Regions from separate parts of the Homo sapiens genome. Here region 2 is linked to region 1. The links come from fine-mapping of genetic effects on gene expression. A gene starts in region 1. The other region holds a variant in brackets. All regions are shown on one strand. Distances are from middle to middle.

Region 1 (5,374 bases):
CAGGCTGGAGTGCAGTGGCGCGATCGCTGCAACCTCCGCCTCCCGGGTTCAAGCGATTCCCCTGCCTCAGCCTCCTGAGTACCTGGGACTACAGGCATGTGCCACCATGCCCGGCTAATTTTTTGTATTTTAGGAGAGACGGGGTTTCACCATGTTGGTCAGGATGGTCTCGATCTCCTGACCTCGTGATCTGCCCGCCTCAGCCTCCCAAAGTGCTCGGATTACAGGTGTGAGCCACCGCGCCCGGTAGACTGGCCTTTTCTAAAAACAAGGCAATCCCTCATTTGGAAGGTAGACATGTAACTGATTCTATACTGTTCCAAGATTTTTTTTAATAACATGATACAAACACTATCAGATCCAGAAACAAGCAAAGCAGAGTACTCTGCCTATGGAGTAATATGCCCTCCTGCATCAAGGTACCTTATATTCTTTGTGTCTCAATGTCCTTACGTTTGAACTGGGATAACAATAACTATCTCAGCTGATTGTAGTGAAGATTCAAGGAGTTAATAAACCCAAACCACTTAGTCCAGTTGTTCCAGCCACAAAGTAAGCCCTAAGTGTTAGCCATATATAAGCCTGTTTTCCCCCCTACCAGGAGGGAAATACATCTCTACAGTGGAAAGAAGGATTTCACACTTTAATATATTAAATGATGATGATGTTCAGTAATTTTAGAAGACGATCTAACTAAAACCTAAATGCTAAGCATCTAAATTTTGAGTTACTCTATATAGAAACGTGTCTAGATGTAAGGGGTCAGTTTGCCAAATACATTTTTTCCTTATAGTTACAGAGATTATATTTCCACATGCCTGTCAAGGTTCGGCATCTTCTTAATGACAGGCCATGATTCCATACTTCACTGAAAACCATGAGAGCAACATAAAGCTGGGCTTAAAGGCAGAGAACAATTTTCTTTTTAAAAAACTCTCTTCCTAGCAATAAGTAACAATCCAATCCTTATCCTTCCCACTGCAATAAAATGGAAAATGCAATGGAAATATCTTTTCAAAAACTGATGCCAAACTGATTCAAAAAGTGTGGTACACTACGGGAAAACAGTACTAAAGGGGAAAAGAAATCACCCTGCATTCTCCTTCCATTATGATAAGTATTTAATAAACAGTTTTGCCTGTTTCTGGAACAGGTTTTTCAAGGATTGTAGGTGGAAAAAAAAAAAAGTTTTGTCACTTTCTGGAAAGGCTTACCTTTTTAATGTGGAGAGCTTCACTTGGGCAAATTAGCATAGCGTTGGGTCAGACCCAGTGTTTGACCAAGGCAGTCTAGACCACCAGCCTCAATGATGGATTGTAAAGAACATGTTCTGAATCCAAGACTCAGAGATAAGCAGAAACTATTCCATTCGCTTCAGAACCCGGGCTCTTTCACAAAGGATCATAATTACCACCACTTACCTTTAATAGGCTTAAGATGCTATTTAATTAACCTGCCTTCCTACAGTGTCCATCCATCCGTGCAGCTTAACTTTAGGGGTCATTACCTCCAAAGGTTCTTTTTCCTCCCCAAAATTTTCCCCAGAAGGACCTAATATCAACGAGGCTTTCATAGCAGGGTCTCACGTCCCCCTTTCAGAAAAATAAATGGCCTTGCCAAAAAGTAAAGCCGCGCCAACTTGGGGGACAGACGGGCAAGACCTTGCCTTTGCAACTCAACCCCGTGAGTACCCAGCCAGGTCCGGCCACGCACGAAAGCGCACCGCGCCTCCCTGCAGCGTCTGCAGATTTGTTCAGGGGCCAAGAGACCCGCAGCCCCGACGGAGGTTCCCCCGCCGCTCACTCCCCTGGGACCACTCACCTTGCTGGGCTCCAGCGTCCTCGAGCAGCAGGAGCAGGACAAGTAAGAGCAGGAGGAACAGAGGCATGGAGAAGGAGGAGGAGTTGGAGCAGGGAGGGAGGGAGCGGGAGAGGGGGAGCGCGGCCCAGGCGGGGGCGGCGGCCGCGGCCCGGACTTGGGGACACTGCGGGCAGCGCCTGGCTCTCACCACCGCCCGGCTCGCCATCGCGGCGGCCGGCAGTCTGCCTGCATAGTGCGGGTGCCTCGGCAGCCCCGCGCGCCTCTGGCCGCGGCACCCGACCAGGAGACGGCGGCAGCGGCGGGAGAACAAGAGGCAGCCCTCGCCTCACCCCGCGCCGGGACCCTTCCGCCCCTCACCCCGCTTTCACCTACTCCTCCTTCGTCCCTTCCCTCCGCTCCCCGCGCCGAGACCCCAGGCCGGAGCGCAGGGGAGGGGAGGGAAGGAAGCGGAGTCCTCGAGCCGCGGAGGACGGCCGCGGCGGAGCTAAGGAACGTGCCTCCCGCGCCGCGCTCCTCACCAGGGTCGCCGCTCGCCGCGCTCACCCGCGGCTCCGGCTAGCTGGCAGGCAGGCCCGCAGCCAGCTCCCTCGCGCTCCCTCTCGCGCGCGCCGGCCACGCCCCCTAGGCACCGCGGCCAATCCTCGGCCAGCTCTGGTCCGTCTCCTTCCGCGAAACCCAATCAGCATGCTCGCTCCTCGCTCGACCCGCTAGTTCTCCGGCCCATTCCTCGAGCTCCACCGCCCCTTACCTCCCTCTTCCAATCCCCTTCGGCCTTTGGAGGCGTCCCACCCGCCTCCTCCAATCCAGGTCCCGCCCTCCAGCTTCGGATCCCCGCGGCCCCCGCCCGGCCCGGGCGCCTGTTATTGTTGGGCCCTCAGCCCAAACTGATCCCGCAGAGGCGGCAGCCAGCTCGTCAGTGACTTCCGGGACGTCCCCCATCCCGCGCTCCCTGCTCCTCAGGCCCAGCTTGCTCCTTGCTCCTTTCTCCTCGCTCCTCCGACGCACATCAGACCACTGGAAGGGGGTGGGAAACCTGGATCCTGGGTTGTTTTAGCTGGGAGCTGAGTCTAAGGGACTTTTTTTTTTTTTTTAATGGCAGAGCGTGGCTTGTTTTGTTAAAACTGCCGCCAGTTGTTGCAACAGCTCCGAGTTAGAATAATAGATGCAGTGTTCAGTTTTTAATATATGTGTTCCCTGTTTTCTCTGCTCTTTTTATGGCGGGGGGTGGGGGACAAAAAAGTGTAAAACAAGATCCGTGCCGCAAAGGCAATTTAAACCTAACATCCCAACCTTCATGCAGCCATTCTACAAGGAGTTGTTGAGCACCTGCTGTCTATCTACAGAAATCTTGAAATGTGGAACAGAGATGGAAATATAGCATGCAAGTCAGAATGAAGTAAGTGCTAATTAGAGTCACAAGCAGTTTGATGGAGACTGTAAGCCTATGGAACGACAAAAAGAATTTTAGGAAAGAGGAATGCAGAGGTCTACGCAGTGATTTATTTTAGAAGAGAGTGGCCATGTAGGATGTTTTTAACAGCAGTCCCTGAAAGGACAATGGTGTCATTAGCAAATACAAAAAACTGCTAAGGTGGAACAAGTTGTGTGGGAAAGTAAGTTAATTTTGGACGTATTGAATTTGAGATGCCAACTTAGATAATAAGTGAAGCTATGTAACAGGCAGATGGATATTTTAGTCGAAAGCTCAGATTGAGAGCTTTGAAATTATGGCTCTGGGAGTCATACATAGCCATACATGTATACATATACATATGTATACATAGTCATACATAGATGTGATATTCAAAAACATGGAAGGGACTGATATCCTTCAATGAAAGTCTAAGTTGGAAAGGACTTTGGAGGTCGTATGTTTCAACTCCCCTGCATATTTCTTATACAATAATCTCTTTAACCAAATTTATTCAATTAACATTTATTAAATGCCTAAGAAACCCTATTATGCTCTAAGCCATTGTGGGCATTGGGCATAAAAAGTTTACTGAGAAGAACTTACATTCTGGAGGAGGAGGTGACATGTAAACAAACCTATTGTTATTAGTGCCCTGTTAGAGGTGTGGACTGGTGCCACAATACCACAGTGAACGGAGTTCAAAAAAACCCGTCAGTTTGAAATGCCAGTGTCTTGAATAAGAAACTAAAGTGAAAAAGGTGATCTCAGGCCAGAGGCAAAATAGGCTGGGTCACAGGCTCAATAGGGAATGGTGTTGATGGAGCTGGATTGACTACTGCTGACGTAATGGGAGGAACTGGAGACTAGTCTGGAAAAGTTAGGAGGGGCAAGATGTAAGGCAAGCTAAGAGTCAAGATTTTATTTTGTATCACTGGAAAATAACTAAAGGGTTCTAAGAAAGAATGACATTGTCAGTTTTTTTTTTGTTTTTGTTTTTGTTTTTGTTTTTTTTGAGATGGAGTTTTGCTCTTGTTGCCCAGGCTGGAGTGCAATGGCATGATCTCGGCTCACTGCAACCTCTGCCTCCCGGGTTCAAGCGATTCTCCTGCCTCAGTCTCCCTAGTAGCTGGGATTACAGGCATGTGCCACCGCACCCGGCTAATTTTGTATTTTTAGTAGAGCCGGGGTTTCTCCATTGTTGGTCAGGCTGGTCTCGAACTCCCGACCTCAGGTGATCCACCCGCCTCAGCCTCCCAAAGTGCTGGGATAACGGCGTGAGCCATCGCGCCCGGTCATTATCAGGTTTTTATTGTAAAAACCCCAATCAGCCAGTAGGGTGAGGAATACATTGGTGTAAGAGCAAGACTGGAAGCCAGGGAGAGCCAGTCTGCAGTTAAAGGGAGTGATGGTGAGTTTTTAGTGCATTAAAAGTGGGCTTGGGAAGGCGGGACCAACTAGGGGAATATTTTTAAACTTGGTGACTGATTATGTGGAGTGTAAGGAGTTGAGGAAGTCTCCAGGTTTCTGGTAGAAGGTGATGTCTTTCCCACAGTAAGGAGTACAAGAAGGAGAATTGGTTTGGTTGGATAAAGAAGTAGAAGTTAAAAATCATAAATTCAGAATTGAACCTATCAGACATGATGTGCTAATGTGGCAAGCAGTCAGTCATGAAATAAGATTTCTAGTAGTAGTGCCTGAGACAACCTATTTCATGTGGAATCACTCCTTTCATAGGACCATTGAAAGAGAAGCTTGAGGTCACAGATGTGGTGGCAGAGCAAGGTAGTGTGAATCTTAGCCTGGCATTCTATTGACTACATAGAACTGTGGCAGAGGCAGAGAATTCACCTAAGAACTAGCACAGTTATGGAGCATTTCTGGAAGAGGCAAAATTTGGTCTCTAGCAACCCCTACCCCTTTAATATAGCAGGAAAAGATCCCGACTACATACGTGTAAAGCAAGAGGAAGGAGCACTTACATTTCTCATCACTGTTTTACTTACTGTCTAGTGTTTTAAAGTTGTTAAAAGTAGAGACTAGAGAGGTGAAGAGGTTCTGAATTAGGTCACTGGCAGGGAAAAAGAGAGGGAGGTGGGAGCAAGTTGGAGTTATATTTAAAGCAGCAAAATCAGAAGGTCT
Region 2 (5,374 bases), 67 kb before region 1:
CTGAATATCTTTGTTAATTTTCTGCTTAGATGATCTGTCTAATACTGTCAGTGGAGTGTTAAAGTCTCCCACTATTATTGTGTGGGAGCCTAAGTCTCTTTTTAGGTTTCTAAGAACTTGCTTTATGAATCTGGGTGCTCCTGTGTTGAGTGCATATATATTTAGAATAGTTAGGTATTCTTGTTGAACTGAATGCTTTACATTATGTAATGCCCTTGTCTTTTTTGAGCTTTGTTCGTTTAAAGTCTGTTTTGTCTGAAATTAGGGTTGCAATGCCTGCATTTTTCTGATTTCCATTTGCTTGTTAGATTTTCCTCCATCCCTTTATTTTGAGCCTATGGATGTCATTGCATGTGAGATGGGTTCCTGAAGACGGCGTATCATTGGGTCTTGCTTTTTTATTCAGCATGCCACTCTATGCCTTTTTAAATAGGGCATTTAGGCTATTTACATTCAAGGGTAGTATTGATATGTGTGCATATGATCCTGTCATTGTGTTGTTAGCTGATTATTATGCTGGCTTGTTTGTGTGGTTCCTTTATAGTGTCACTGGTGTGTGTACTTGAGTGTATTTTCCTAGTGGTGTTTTAATGGTTTTTCTTTTCCATATTTAGTGCTAGCTTCAAGATGTCTTGAAAGGTGGGTCTGGTGGTAATGAACTCGCTTAGCATTTGCTTATCTGACAAGAATCTTATTTCTCCTTTGCTAAGGAAGCTTAGTTTGGCTGGTTATGAAATTCTTGAAGATTTTTTTCCTTTAAGAATGTCAAATATAGGTCCCCAATCTCTTCCAGTTTGCAGGGTTTCAGCTGAGAGGTCTGTTGCTAGCCTGATGGGGTTCCCTTTGTTGGTGATCTGCCCTTTCTCTCTAGCTGCCTTTAACATTCTTTTATTTAGACATTGGAAAATCTGATGATTATGTGTCTTGGGGAGATCTTGTGTAGAATCTTGCAGGGGTTCTCTGTATTTCCTGAATTTTGACTGTTGGCCTCTCTAGCGAGGCTGGGGAAATTTTCATAGATGATATCCTGAAATATGTTTTCCAAGTTGTTTGCTTTCTCCCCATCCAATTCAGGGATATCAGTGATTTGCAGATTTGGCTTCTTTATATAATCCCTTATTTCTTAGAGGTTTTATTCATTCCTTTTCATTCTTTTTTTCTTTACTTTTGTCTGACTCTCTTATTTCAGAGAGCCAGTCTTCAAGTTCCAAGATTCTTTCCTCAGCGTGGTCTATTCTGCTGTTAATACTTGCAATTGGGTTGTGAAATTCTTGTAGTGTGTTTTTCAGCTCTATCAGGTCAGTTAGATTCTTTTTTGCACTGGCTATTTTATCTGCCAGCTCCTGTATTGTTTTATTGTTAATTCTTAGTTTCCTTGAATTGGGTTTTGCCATTCTCCTGAATCTCGATGCTCTTCATTCCTGTGCATATTCTGAATTCTATTTCTGTCATTTCAGCCAACTCAGCCTGGTTAAGAACCCTCATTGGTGAACTAGTGCAATCGTTAGGAGGACATAAGACACTCTGGCCATTTGAATTGCTGAAGTTCTTGTGTTAGTTCTTTCTCATCTCTCTGTGTGGGTGTTCCTTTAACTGCTGGGCTGCCTCTAATTGAAGTGGTCAGGTGGGGGTACAGTGGTTGTGCTGGAGTCCCAGGTCAGGCAGCCCTGTCCAGTGAGGAGAAGTGAGGACCAGGATCTACATGGAGAACCGTCTGACCACTTTTTGGTGAGATGGGTACTGTGCTTGGGGTTCAGACCAGGCTTCAGTCCCATGGACTCTCCAGAGCCTGGAAACAGCAAAGGTGAGGGCTGCAAGGCAGAAAAGATGGAAACACCACCCTCCCAGTGGGAGCTCTGTCCCAGGTTGCTGCAGAGCTGCTACTGGCTCCAAAGTCCCAGTGAAGGGAGGCTGGAAACCCAAGCCTGGAGGACTTGCCCAGTGAGGAGATATGGGAGTGGAGACCCATGTAAGAAACAGTCTGGCCACTTTTCCATGACTACTCCAGTAAACTAGGGGCCTGCTCTGGTCCCCAGTCACCTCGGATTTTCCAGCACCACTTCCCTGGGTGGGGGAGGCTCCTCTGGCCCTGTGTCGTTCCTGAGTGGGTGGTTGTCCTGCTTTGCTTTTTTCCATTCTCTGTGAGTAGAGTTGTTTT[CTT/C]TTTTTTTTTTTTTTTTGTTTTAAATTTTTTTATTGATACATAATAGATGTACCTATTTTGGGGAGTACATATGATAACTTAATACATTCATAGAATTCACAAAGATCAAATCAGTGTAATTGGGATATTCATCACCTTGAATACTTTTCTTTATGCTAAAACATTTGCTTTATTCCCTTCTAGCTATTTCAAAATATACAACAGATTATTGTAAACCATAGTCACCTTACTGATCTATCAAACACCAGGTCTTATTTCTTCTATCAAACTGTATATTTGTACCCATTAATCAACCTCTCTTCATCCCCCCACCTCCTCCCCTTTCAGCCTCCAGTAACCACCAGTCTATTCTCTAACTTCATGAGATTTACGTTTTTAGCTCCCAAATATGAGTGAGAACATGTGATATTTGCTTATCCATGCTTGGCTTATTTCACAACACAGTGACTTCCAGTTCCATGCCTGTTGCTGCAAATGACAGGATCTCATTCTTTTTCATTGCTGAATAATATTCCATTGTGTATACATCACCTTTTCTTTATTCACTCATCCATTGATGGATACTTAGATTGATTCTATATTTTAGCTATTGTGAATAGTGCTGCGATAAAGATGGGAGTGCAGATATCTTTTCCATATATTGAAACTTATAGATGTTATCCTAAAAAGTTAAAAGCCTCCCCTCAGTCTGAACTGCTTTGACATCTGGAACTTCCTTTTTCAAACCCAAAGCTGCCTGTCATAATCCCAACTGATTCCTACTGCTTGTCTTTAAATTTTCCATCCCAATAGGCCACCAGCCCTTCTGCTATAAACTTGCACATTCTTTTTTTTTTTTATTTTTTTGAGACAGAGTTTTGCTCTGTCATCCAGGCTAGAGTGCAATGGCCCTATCTTGGCTCACTGCAACCTCTGCCTCCCAGGTTCAGGCGATTCTCCTGCCTCAGCCTCCCAGGTAGCTGGGATTACAGGCATGTGCCACCACACCTGGGTAATTTTGTATTTTTAGGAGAGATGGGGTTTCACCATGTTGGTCAGGCTGGTCTCGAACTCCTGAACTCAGATGATCTGTCCGCCTCAACTTCCCAAAGTGCTGGGATTACAGGCAGGAGCCACCGCGCCCGGCATACTCGCACATTCTTAAGTCCCTACTCTTTCCTGGCATTCCTCCCTTACCTAGAATGGGTTTCTCATCACCAAAAGCATCCTACCCACTGTTCAAGGTCAAATTCAAATGTCAACTCCTGGGTGTCCCCAGCCAGAAATGATTCCCTTCTCATTTGTTCTTCTAAGATAACTATTTTCTTGCCATTTAATTATTCTTCACTCAGTAAACATCTATTGAGCACCAAATATGTGCCAGGTTCACTTATCCATCCTCTCACTCCGTATGCTATTTTTTTTTCTTCTTTTTTTTTTTTTGAGACAGAGTTTCTTTTTTGTTGCCCAGCCTTGAGTGCAATGGTGCAATCTCGGCTCACTGCAACTTCTGCCTCCCGGATTCAAGCGATTCTCTCGTCTTAGCCTCCCGAGTAGCTGGGACTACAGGCACGTGCCACCATGCCTGGCTAATTTTTGTATTTTTAGTAGAGACAGGGTTTCACCATGTTGGCCAGGCTGGTCTCAAGCTCCTGACCTCAGGTGATTCACCTACCTTGGCCTCCCAAACTGCTGGGATTATAGCGTGAGCCACCACGCCTGGCCACTCCATATGCTACTATAATTATTTGGTGCTTATATGAGGGGAGGAGATGAATTTTTCTTTCTTTCTTTCTTTCTTCCTTCCTTTCTTTCTTTTTTTTTTTTTTTAAGATTTTTAAATTTTTGTTTATTCACATTGAGGAGAATCTAAATTCTTTTGAACTTATGTATAGATTTCACCATTTTATAGTAATAAATCAGTCCTCCTGTGTGTGTGTGTATGTGTGTGTGTATGTAAACCTCACCTTGCAATATTATTATTTTAAATAGCCACTTGCATCTTAAGGAAATTAAGAGGACAAAAGAAAAGCTGCTGTTTTGTATGTATCCACATATTTACCAGCTGCTTCCCTGCCGGCAGGTGCTCTGGTTCTGCACTGCCTGTTGTCCCTTGCCTGAAAATGGTTGCCTCCAATATTTTGCTCAGTTTTCTGATTGTTTACAGTGGCAGAGGAGGGTAGATCTGGTACCAGTTAGTAATTGCCAGAGGTGGAAGTCTGTGGATGAAATTTGTATAACATGGAACGTTAGTTCCACAGTTAATGCTACTCAATTGGAACCCATGGAAATTATTTTTTGGTGAAAAGGGCCCATGCGTTATGAAATTTGAGATCCAGAACAAAATGAAAAGTCTCTCATGTCTACTTCTTTCTACACAGACACCGCAACCATCCGATTTCTCAATCTTTTCCCCACCTTTCCCGCCTTTCTATTCCACAAAGCCGCCATTGTCATCCTGGCCCGTTCTCAATGAGCTGTTGGGCACACCTCCCAGACGGGGCGGCTGGCCGGGCAGAGGGGCTCCTCACTTCCCAGTAGGGGCGGCCGGGCAGAGGCGCCCATCACCTCCCGGACGGGGCGGCTGGCCGGGCGGGGGGGCTGACCCCCCCATCTCCCTCCCGGACGGGGTGGCTGGCCGGGCGGGGGGCCGACACCCCCACCTCCCTCCCGGACGGGGTGGCTGGCCGGGCAGGGGGCCGACCCCCCCACCTCCCTCCCGGACGGGGCGGCTGGCCGGGCGGGGGGCCGACACCCCCACCTCCCTCCCGGAGGGGGCGGCTGGCCGGGCGGGGGGCTGACCCCCCCACCTCCCTCCCGGACGGGGCGGCTGGCCGGGCAGAGGGGCTCCTCACTTCCCAGTAGGGGCGGCCGGGCAGAGGCGCCCCTCACCTCCCGGACGGGGCGGCTGGCCGGGCGGGGGGGCTGACCCCCCCCATCTCCCTCCCGGACGGGGCGGCTGGCCGGGCGGGGGGCCGACACCCCCACCTCCCTCCCAGACGGGGTGGCTGGCCGGGCAGGGGGCCGACCCCCCCACCTCCCTCCCGGACGGGGCGGCTGGCCGGGCGGGGGGCCGACACCCCCACCTCCCTCCCGGACGGGGTGGCTGGCCGGGCAGGGGGCCGACCCCCCCACCTCCCTCCCGGACGGGGCGGCTGGCCGGGCGGGGGGCCGACACCCCCACCTCCCTCCCGGACGGGGCGGCTGGCCGGGCAGAGGGGCTCCTCACTTCCC

Which allele goes with the higher level. Positions count from the first base shown, and alleles are read on the strand shown. Sizes are in standard deviations (SD) of each study's normalised expression.
In carriers of allele CTT in region 2, the expression in monocytes after LPS of the gene that starts at base 2,395 in region 1 tends to be higher than with C alone (moderate effect, 0.74 SD a copy in Fairfax 2014).

The links. PIP is the estimated chance that this variant, and not a neighbour inherited with it, causes the effect. A credible set is the group of variants that fine-mapping cannot tell apart.
Region 2: its variant is the best candidate, but not a certain one, in a credible set for the expression of DCBLD2 in monocytes after LPS (Fairfax 2014, PIP 0.80).

What each region holds. Positions count from the first base shown.
Region 1 is chr3:98,899,301-98,904,674 of GRCh38, forward strand. It overlaps DCBLD2 (discoidin, CUB and LCCL domain containing 2), which reads right to left and starts at 2,395. Exons shown (of 16, transcript NM_080927.4): 1 at 1,822-2,395. The coding sequence starts at 2,026. It overlaps LOC105374002 (a long non-coding RNA gene), which reads left to right and starts at 2,714. Exons shown (of 2, transcript NR_189121.1): 1 at 2,714-3,217. RefSeq lists enhancers at 1,294-2,010, 2,011-2,726 and silencers at 1,834-2,523, 2,664-2,713.
Region 2 is chr3:98,831,984-98,837,357 of GRCh38, forward strand. All of the region lies in intron 3 of DCBLD2 (discoidin, CUB and LCCL domain containing 2), which reads right to left. Among named protein-coding and RNA genes, the nearest start is that of DCBLD2, 67 kb to the right of the region's middle. The variant CTT/C (reference allele first, on the strand shown) is at 2,159.